2 separate regions of the Homo sapiens genome follow, and region 2 is linked to region 1. Evidence: fine-mapped expression QTL. A gene starts in region 1. The other region holds a variant in brackets. All regions are shown on one strand. Distances are between the middles of the regions.

Evidence for each region. PIP is the estimated chance that this variant, and not a neighbour inherited with it, causes the effect. A credible set is the group of variants that fine-mapping cannot tell apart.
Region 2: its variant is the best candidate, but not a certain one, in a credible set for the expression of NT5C1A in cerebral cortex (GTEx, PIP 0.86).

What each region holds. Positions count from the first base shown.
Region 1 is chr1:39,669,447-39,673,833 of GRCh38, forward strand. NT5C1A (5'-nucleotidase, cytosolic IA) reads right to left here and starts at 2,661. Exons shown (of 6, transcript NM_032526.3): 1 at 2,458-2,661. The coding sequence starts at 2,592. RefSeq lists a silencer at 2,444-2,853.
Region 2 is chr1:39,628,637-39,633,023 of GRCh38, forward strand. HEYL (hes related family bHLH transcription factor with YRPW motif like) reads right to left here. Exons shown (of 5, transcript NM_014571.4): 2 at 4,013-4,079; 3 at 2,860-2,943; 4 at 1,591-1,672. Among named protein-coding and RNA genes, the nearest start is that of HEYL, 8.8 kb to the right of the region's middle. The variant T/C (reference allele first, on the strand shown) is at 1,745.

The DNA of each region.
Region 1 (4,387 bases):
CCTTCAGGCGTTAAATATTTTACTCAGGCCCCTGGGAATGAGAATTAGCCCAGGCCAGGCCATGATGGGGCCCATGAGGCCTAGAGCCCCCAAAATAGCCTGTGGGAAGAGGGGCTTCTGCAGGAAGGAATAGGAGCTGGGAAGCCTCCAGGCTTCTTGCCTCCCAGAGAACCATGAGAGTCAGGGGCTGATCCAGGGGTCATGACTGACAACTGGGCCTGAGCTCTCCGGTTCCTTGGTGCCTGGGGAGGAAATGGATTTTGAGCACTGATGCTTTCACTGCCCCAGTCCCCAGTCTCCATCCCTTCTTCTGCATCACTCAGGCCACAGCATTGACATTCATCCAGCTTCCTCTTCAGAGAGGCACCAGCCTTCTCACTGGTGGGTTTGCTGCCGGACTCACCCTTTCCAATCCATCCCAGAGTGATCTTTCTAAAATAAAAATGGGACCCAGTTAATCCCCTGATGAAAAATCCTGTAATAGCTCCATAATGGTATTCATATGTTTGTTTAAATGTAGGTTGACCTTTTATTTAAATGAATTCAAATAAACTTTGAATTCAATATGTAAGCCAGATATTACCATATATCTCATACCATATGGTACCAGATATAACATATATAATTGGTGTTTATTTATTTTACAGATTCAAATGCATTACATTTATTTATTTATTTATTATAAAGTCAACCAATGAAAACAACACAGTTGTTTGCATGACAACAAATTTGAAACTAGCGGCTAGAATGCCAGTGCAGACTTAAGCTTCAGCATCCGGCCAAGTTGTTGCTGTGTTTGTATTTGTACAGTATTGAGAAAGTCCTGATTCAGACCAATAAGTGGTTGGAAATGCTAAAAGGTTTTTTGTTTTGGTTTGTTTTAAACTAAAGGCCTTACAATCTCAAGACGCTCTTTGATGGAACAGATCACAGGGGAAGCCTTATTCTGAGCTTTGCTTTAAAAAAATCTGCAGCACAAGCTAGTGGCCTTCAAGCTGCTAAAATGTCCACCTAATACATTAGAGTGAGTTGGGTTTTATTACACATTTTTAATTGTTTAAAACATAGTCCGAAGAAGAAAGAAAATAAATTGGATTCACATGTGTGCAGACTCCCTGAAACATGGGGCTTGGGGAAGCTAGTTTGGAAATCCCTGACCCCCTTGAGTAAGGTCCAGACTCCTTAACATGATCCCCAAGGCCCTCTGTGGGCTCTTCCACATCCCTCCAGCTCTTCTTCCAACAATCCTGCATTCTTCATTCAGTACTTATTCAGGAACACAGTCCTGAGCTTCAGAGACATCTGCATGACTTTTGCCTGTCCTGTTTCCCTCTCCCTGGGAAACTCCACCTACTCAGGCTTTAAGATCAGGATACGTGCCACTTCTACAAAGCTTTCCCCAGTGTGATGTCACTACTCTACTCCCCCCCCAACTCCCCTAGGCTCTCATCTCTGGAGCCTCCATCATTGTGCAGTGAGCTCCTGAGGCAGGGACTCAGGTTATTTAATTCTTCAATCCCCACTCTTGAGCAGAGCTTGGAGGTGCTAATTGAATGATTGCTGATAGGGTGGACCTGTTGGGGAAGGGTTCTTGGAGGGAAGCAGCAAATTGCTTTAAGATCAAGCTGGAGCTCTTTGGAGGACCGCTGTGGGCCAACCTCTATTCTCGGTTTTCTCCTCAAGCTCTGAGATCTGGGAAGTTGGAGACAGCAAGGTCCAGGGGCAGACCAGGGCATCATCAACTTGTTTGATGGCAGAGAGGAGAGAGCTCCTCTGTGAGGTCCCAGACGGTTGACACCACCACAGGGTCGTGGGGATGTTAATGCCCACTGCAAGGGGAGCAGAACCCGAGCTGGGGGGCAGAGTCCAGCGCTGGGAGCCTGCGGCCAGGGGCGCCGATCGCCCCCCAGCGCAGAGTGTGGATCCCAGTGCCTGGAGAGAGCAGCTCCCTTTCCTTAGGACGCGGGGAGCGCACTGCCCCCAGCCCAGGGCCCAGGACCCAGAGCCAGACCCCAAACGCAGAGTCTCAGGTCCGGAGCCCGATGCCCAGATGGCGGAGACCGGAGCGCACAGCCAGGAACCGGGTTCCCAAAGTCTGGTTACCCGCGCCTGGGGCGCTTCTGGAAGCGCTGCGGACCAGCTTCGCCAACAAGTGCAATCCGCGCTCCCCGGCGGCCCGAGTGGGGAGGGGCTGGGGCTGCGGGCCTCTAGCTGGGCCCTGATGACAGCATGGGGGAGGGGGAGCCTGGCGTGGAACCCGAGTCCCGGTAAAAAAATACACCAGAGCAGAGCTCCCAAAATAAACCCGAGCCCGCGCCAGCTGCAGGGCGCATTCTGGGGCTGAGGAGCTGCGTCCCCTCCCAGAGGGGCGCCACGGGTCCCTTCCCAAGAGACTTATGACCCCTCCTCCGGGGTAACCCTTCCCCCGTCCCCCGCATACCCGTGCATTGCTTTTACCGATTTGGGTTTCTTCTTGGGCGCGAGGTTGTCGTAGAAAATCTTGGCTTCCTCCCAGACCGGGGCCGCAGCGGTCTCCGCTCCTGGCCCGGGCTCGCGGGGCTCCTGGGGCTCCCGGGGCTGCCCAGGTTCCATGCTCCGGCTCTGACCCGGCCCGGCCAGAGCAGGCGGCGGCGTAGACGCGGAGGTGGCTGGGGCTGGGCTGCAGGAGGGAGGCGAGTCCCGGCGAGGGAAGGGGGCGGGCAGCGGCGAGGAGGCTGTGCGTGTGAGCTGGGCTCCCCGCCCGCCGGGCGGGGGGAGGTCACACTGGCCCTCTCGGTCGCCCGTGTGTCGCTGCCGCTGCTGCTGCTACTGCTGTACGGTATGAGGGATAGCTGGGCTCTCCTTCCCCGACCGACCCACGCCAGCAGCCGGTTGGGTGGTGAGGGGGGCTCTCTGGCTCTCTGGGTTTGTGGGCTGCAGCGGATTGGGGATTGCGAAAATGATGTTCTTCGCAGGCGCTGCAGGGCGCGGAGACAGGAGAGGCCTGACAACTTTTTTTTTCCCCCAGGATAGTGATCCCCAAAGGACAAAATGAAAAGCTAGCCGCTCCCCTCCCAAAAGCTAGCTGCCCATCTTTCCTTTAGGAGCTAGGACCCTGGGATCCTGACGATGTCCCCTTCCCTCCGAGGCCAGTCCATCCGGCAGACGGGCAGGAGGTGATGCATGGATGGCTCCTCTCACTAGCAGAAGCCTGCTCCCAGCGGGAGCTCAGTGAAGGGCCCAACCCGGCAGCTCCTCCACACCACCTAGGAGGGGCCCTTGAAGTCCATGTTGAGACCAGGCTCGGGTGGTCTCAGGTCGAGACCTTGGCCTGGGGTGGGGACCCAGGCCAGAGAGACTCCCAGGGACTCTGAACCCGAATTCTTGCTGGCCCTTTGGTGGTCAGCAGAGGGCGCGCATTCCTAGGCCCCCACCTGCCCAGCTTGGGGTGATTTGTTATAGGCCATGAAGGGGCTGGATAGAGGGAGGGCAGAAGAGGGGCCTCGGAACTACCATCCTGGAATTCCAGGGTGTTGTCCCTCTTGATGCAGAGCTCTGTACTAGTCTCAGGGTGCAGACACAAATGTCACCCATCCCAAGGTACAGGCCAGGAAGCAGACAGCCTCTCTCAGAGGTGTGCATGGGTGGGTGGGAGAAGCAGGAGAAAACACTGGCTTAGCTAGGAGGGCCTCTGACTGGGGAGGTGAGGGGGCTACAGAATGGAGTGATCCCCTCAGCCTCCACCAGGTCCTGGGAGGAATAAACCAACCCTTGTGTGGGAGGAAGGGAAAAATCATAATAAAATGTTAGGATTGGGGGAAGTGTGTTTAGACTTACTTCTAGAAGATTGTTTCCAGAGATGGCCCAAAAACCTCTTCCATCCTGCCTGTCCTTTGGAAATGTGACTTTGACATTCCTCCCATTCAGAGGTGGAGTCCAGTCTGAGCTGGCCCTGTGACTTGCTTTGACCAATTGAATGGAGTAGAAGTGGTGCTCTGTGGTTTCCAAGCTTACGTCTTAAGAGGCCTTGCAGATTCCATTTTTGCCCTCTTGGGAGCCAGCTACTATGTAAATAAGTCTGGACTATCCTGCTGGAAAGGCCACGTAGTGAGACAGATAGGACCTGGAGGATAAGAAGCTAGCGACAGCCCAGGTGACTATAGGCACAATTGACAGACATGTGAATGAGGCCATCCTGGCTGTCCCAGCCCCAGCTCAGCTCCCAGTGGAGTGCAGCTATGTGGGTGACGCCAGCCAACACAACCTGAAGCAGTAAAACCTTCCAGCTGAGCCCAGCCAACTCACAGAATCATCAAAAATAATAAATTGTTGTTTCAGGCACCAAGTTTTGGGGTAGCTTGTTACACTGCAATAAATAATTGAAACTCTAGGAATGAGGTCAATTATT
Region 2 (4,387 bases), 41 kb before region 1:
GCCCAGGCTAGAGTGCAGTGGTGCGATCTCGACTCACTGAAAGCTCCGCCTTCTGGGTTCATGCCATTCTCCTGCCTCAGCCTCCCGAGTAGCTGGGACTACAGGCGCCCACCACCACACCCGGCTGATTTCTTTTTTTGTATTTTTAGTAGAGATGGGGTTTCACCGTGTTAGCCAGGATGGTCTCGATCTCCTGACCTTGTGATCCGCCTGTTTCGGCCTCCTAAAGTGCTGGGACTACAGGCGTGAGCCACCGCGCCCGGCCCGCTGTTTTTTTCTAACATTTGCTGAATTCTTACTAAGCATTTCATCAAGTTATCTAATTTAATCCTCATAAAACCCTCTAATTATTCCCATTTTAGAGATGAGGAAACTGAGGAGGGGAGAGGTTAAATCATTTGTCTAAGGTCATACGGCTAGTAACCAGTAGAGCCCGATTCAAATCTAAAGCCTATACCGTGAACCACAGTTCTGTCTTCCCATTAGTTCACAGTCAGAAAATGGTGGTAACACTAACCCCCATCTTGCAGGTTCTTGTGAGAATCAAATGAAACAACACAAGTGAAAGCATTTTAAAACTGTCAAATGATATCCACATATTAGTCACTACTTTTCTTTTCACTGGATAACCATAAATGTAATTTGAATCTCCCCCATTGGTTCATTAGAGATGGAAGTCTCCACTCTTAGCAATGCATTTTTTTTGGCAGAAGTTCCCAAATGGACCACCTGCACCAGGATAATTGGGTGGCTTGTTAAACTTGCAAACTCCTAAACTTCAATCTAGACCTACTGCCTCAGAATCTCTGGGGGATGACTCCTGATTCTGCCTGCCCCAAGGTGACAATGGTATACACTGAGGCTTCAGAAGCACCAGAATGGGCCACTTAAAATGCTACTGTCCTCTTCTGTAGCAGTAAGTTAGGTCTCTGGAACTTAGGTCTTTGTGGCCAAGGCCTGTGGAGCTTTCAAGGTTTCCCAATTTTGAAATCACCAAATACACAGAGAAACTTTGAGTAGACAGAATTTCTATTTGTCTGGAAGTGTCTTTAAAGCCACTGTTCCCTTACTTTATTGTAACTGATGGGCTTAAAATAACAAAATGAGTTAATTTGTGTCCTGCTACAATCCTGAGACCTGTGGTGAGCATGATATGTCACCCCAGTTCTGCCAAGGACCCCACAGTAGCCCAGAAGGCTAGACCAGTGGGTAGGATACCAGGCTCCTCCCTGGGTTAAGGGGGGTCAGATTGGGATCCCAGTGAGAATTAGCTCATTCAGGTGAATTCTTAATGAGGTCCTGGGTTGGACAAGAGTGGGACCCATAGGAACAGTCTGTTACAGAAGAAAGCGCCTCCCAGGTCTAAGACTGGAGGGAGCTGAACTGAGGAAAAGGTTGCGACAAATGGAGACACTGAAAGTGGAGAGGGAGATGCTGAAAGGAGAGAGAGAAGCTTTGCAAATGTTCCCTCCATTGACTGAGCTCCTCAGAGTGGGCAGCGTGTGGACTTTGCTCACCAGCATATCCCCAGGGCCCAGCCTCAAAATATTTGTTGTATGAATGACGCCTGAAAGAGAAGAGCATGGGTACCTGTCCCACCAGTGGCATGGAGCATTTTCAAGTGATCCACCGTCATCTGCAAGACCTCGGCTTTCTCCAGCTTGGAAGAGCCCTGCGGGTACAGAAGACAGAAGGGTGGAGCCTGCAGCTGACCATGTAGCTGTGCGGTGTCATCAGCACTCAC[T/C]GTCTCGATTTTCTCACCTTCCTCCCACTCCACTGCTGCCTGCAAATGGGCTTCTGCTTTGGCCAAGTTCTCCAAATCTAGAACATTCTTTTCAGTTCTCCTCTCAGACCATCTGTCCACTGTACAGCTGCCGATCATCTTTCCTGAAACCACTCCTCCCTTGACTTGCACGACACCACTGTTTCTGGGCTCTCCTTTCACCATGCCTCTTGATCTGCCGTCTCTTAACACAGTACTGTCCCTTCTGTGTCACTTCGCATTCTGCTGCTCCCTGCAGAGAGGCTTGTCACCTCCATGGCTTTAGCCACCATCCTCAGAATGCCTCTTAAACCAGCTCTTCAGGGAATCCAACTTCAGACTCAATGTGCCCAAGATCTAGCTCATCATCTTATCCCCAGACCACTTGTTCTTCCTCTTTTCTCTCTTGGGAAATGCTTCCTAAGCTTTCCAGGTGAAGCCTGAAGATCAGAGGCTCCATGGGAGTCCCTTGAGGGCAGATACTAGGTCTAGTTCATGGCTGGTCCTGTGATGGTTTTAGTGAACATCTGTGGGATGACTGACTTGTTCTCACCAGCATAAAGGAAGGCAGAGGACCCGTGACCTATGCCTTGGTGCATAGGGTGAGAATTTCTGAGGCTGAGTCCACTGTCTGATTCCCCGCTGTAGTTCCCCCACCTAACATGCTCAATGGTAGAGTGCTCACTCCCTGAGCAGCCTTTTCCACTTTCAAGTCACTCTAGAAATGTCTGTAGTGCAGAGGGATGAGGGCTTGAGAATCACACAGTCCTGTGCCCTGCTATTTACTAGCTGCGTGATCTGGTGTAAGTTACTTCACCTCTCTGTGCTTCAGTTTCTTTACCTGTGCCATGGGCATAATAATCCCTAACCTTTGGGATCATTTTGAGGAGTCAATTCAATGGGATGATAGACATAAAGACACCTGAGACACCTAAGTATAAATTTCCATTCCTTTTACCCTGGCCAGTGACAGATATTGGTAAATGATCACAGCATCTCAGGCAGCTGCTACCAATCAACAAGAGATGCCATGAGAAACGAACCTTATCTGCCACCCACACAGTATTTCCTCTAGCACAATCAGCAATGTCACATACCTGTTTCTCAAAGGCAGTGGGGACCAAGCGTCGCAATTCAGAAAGGCTACTGTTGATGCGGTCTCGACGCCGTTTCTCTATGATCTAAACAATCATGACAAGAAGTTACTCACAGGTGTGTCATCACAGTTTCCAAAGTGCCTTGATGGTCATCAACTCATATTTACCCACACAGTATTTTTGTGAGGGAGATCAATCTAGTCTTACTTTATGGTGGAGAAAACCAAGGCCCAGAGAAGGACAGTGATTTGCTTAAGGTCACACAGCAAGAAAGCGCAGAGCTGGGAGTACAACTCAGATCTCTTGTCTCGGTCTATAGGGGTGATATTCAAGATGTTTAACCACTGGTACAGCAGGGCACAGCCAATCACAATGAGGACACCAGCCACGGTGCTGGAGCAGGCCCTGGAGGCCCGTGCTGGGCCAGGAGGGTGACCCCGTCATCTGTGAGGTCATGAGATGGTTTGGGGAGTCCCACGTGTTGCTCTCTCTAGCTGCAGGGCCCTTCCACCCACACACTCTCATTCTTCCCTCCAATACTGGTAGCAGAACACCGGGAGCAGGACAGATATGACCCCATTTTACAGATAAGGAAAATGAGGGCTGGAAGGAAGTGGTTTGCCTAAGGGCTTACAGTCAGTGAGTGTCAGGCTGCTCTCTGCCAGACCCCAGGTGTCTGGACTCCCAGTGCAGAAACACAGCTGCATCCTGGGAGGAAAGTGGGGCTGAACATGATGGACAGATGACAGCGGCAAGTGGGGATCCTTCTTCTGTCCCCTCCCCCACCCCGGCACACTGAGGGGGATGAAAGTTCTGGACTCAGAGAGGAGACAGAAGATAGGAACAACAATCATAATGGCCTATTGTGTGTCTGCTATTGTTTAGAGCATTACATTAATGCACTTAATCTGTAAAGCAGCCCTTTGAGGTGGGCCCTCTCATTATTCCAGTTACACAAAGGAGCAAATCAGGCTCAGAGAGGTTAACAGGCTTGCCTGGAATCACCCTGATAGCTAGTGACAGAGCCGGGATTTGAACCCAAGCAGTTAGCTTCATGGTGAAATTTCTGCCTAGGGTTCTCCCCGCCGCCAGACTGCAGGGGATTCATGGCAACCCTTTGTTGGTCAACTCAGAGGCTGAGACGGACACTCACCCCTCTGTGTTTCTTCCTGGCTTGCATCTGCGAAGAGCTGGGGGTGGACAGCGGCCTGGCCATCTGGCTGGAAAGGAAAAGAAAAGCTGATTTTTCAGGGCTGGGGGACAGTCTCCCCGGCCTGGGCCGACCTCGGGCCAGGAGGAGCCACAGGCTGGGCCTAGAAGGAGCAGCTTGCTCTCCCCTTCTTCCTGGGGGCTCATTTCAACCCGGGTCAAGTCCTCTCATGCACTCTGGGCCCACTTTGGGCTCTTGGTCCGGACCTGCTCGGCCTCGCCCTTCGCCCCTCGCTCCTCGCTCCTCGCCCCTCGCGGCGGCCGTCGGGGAACCGCGTACCGCGGCGCGGTGGCTCCGGCTCCTGCAACCCGATCCCCG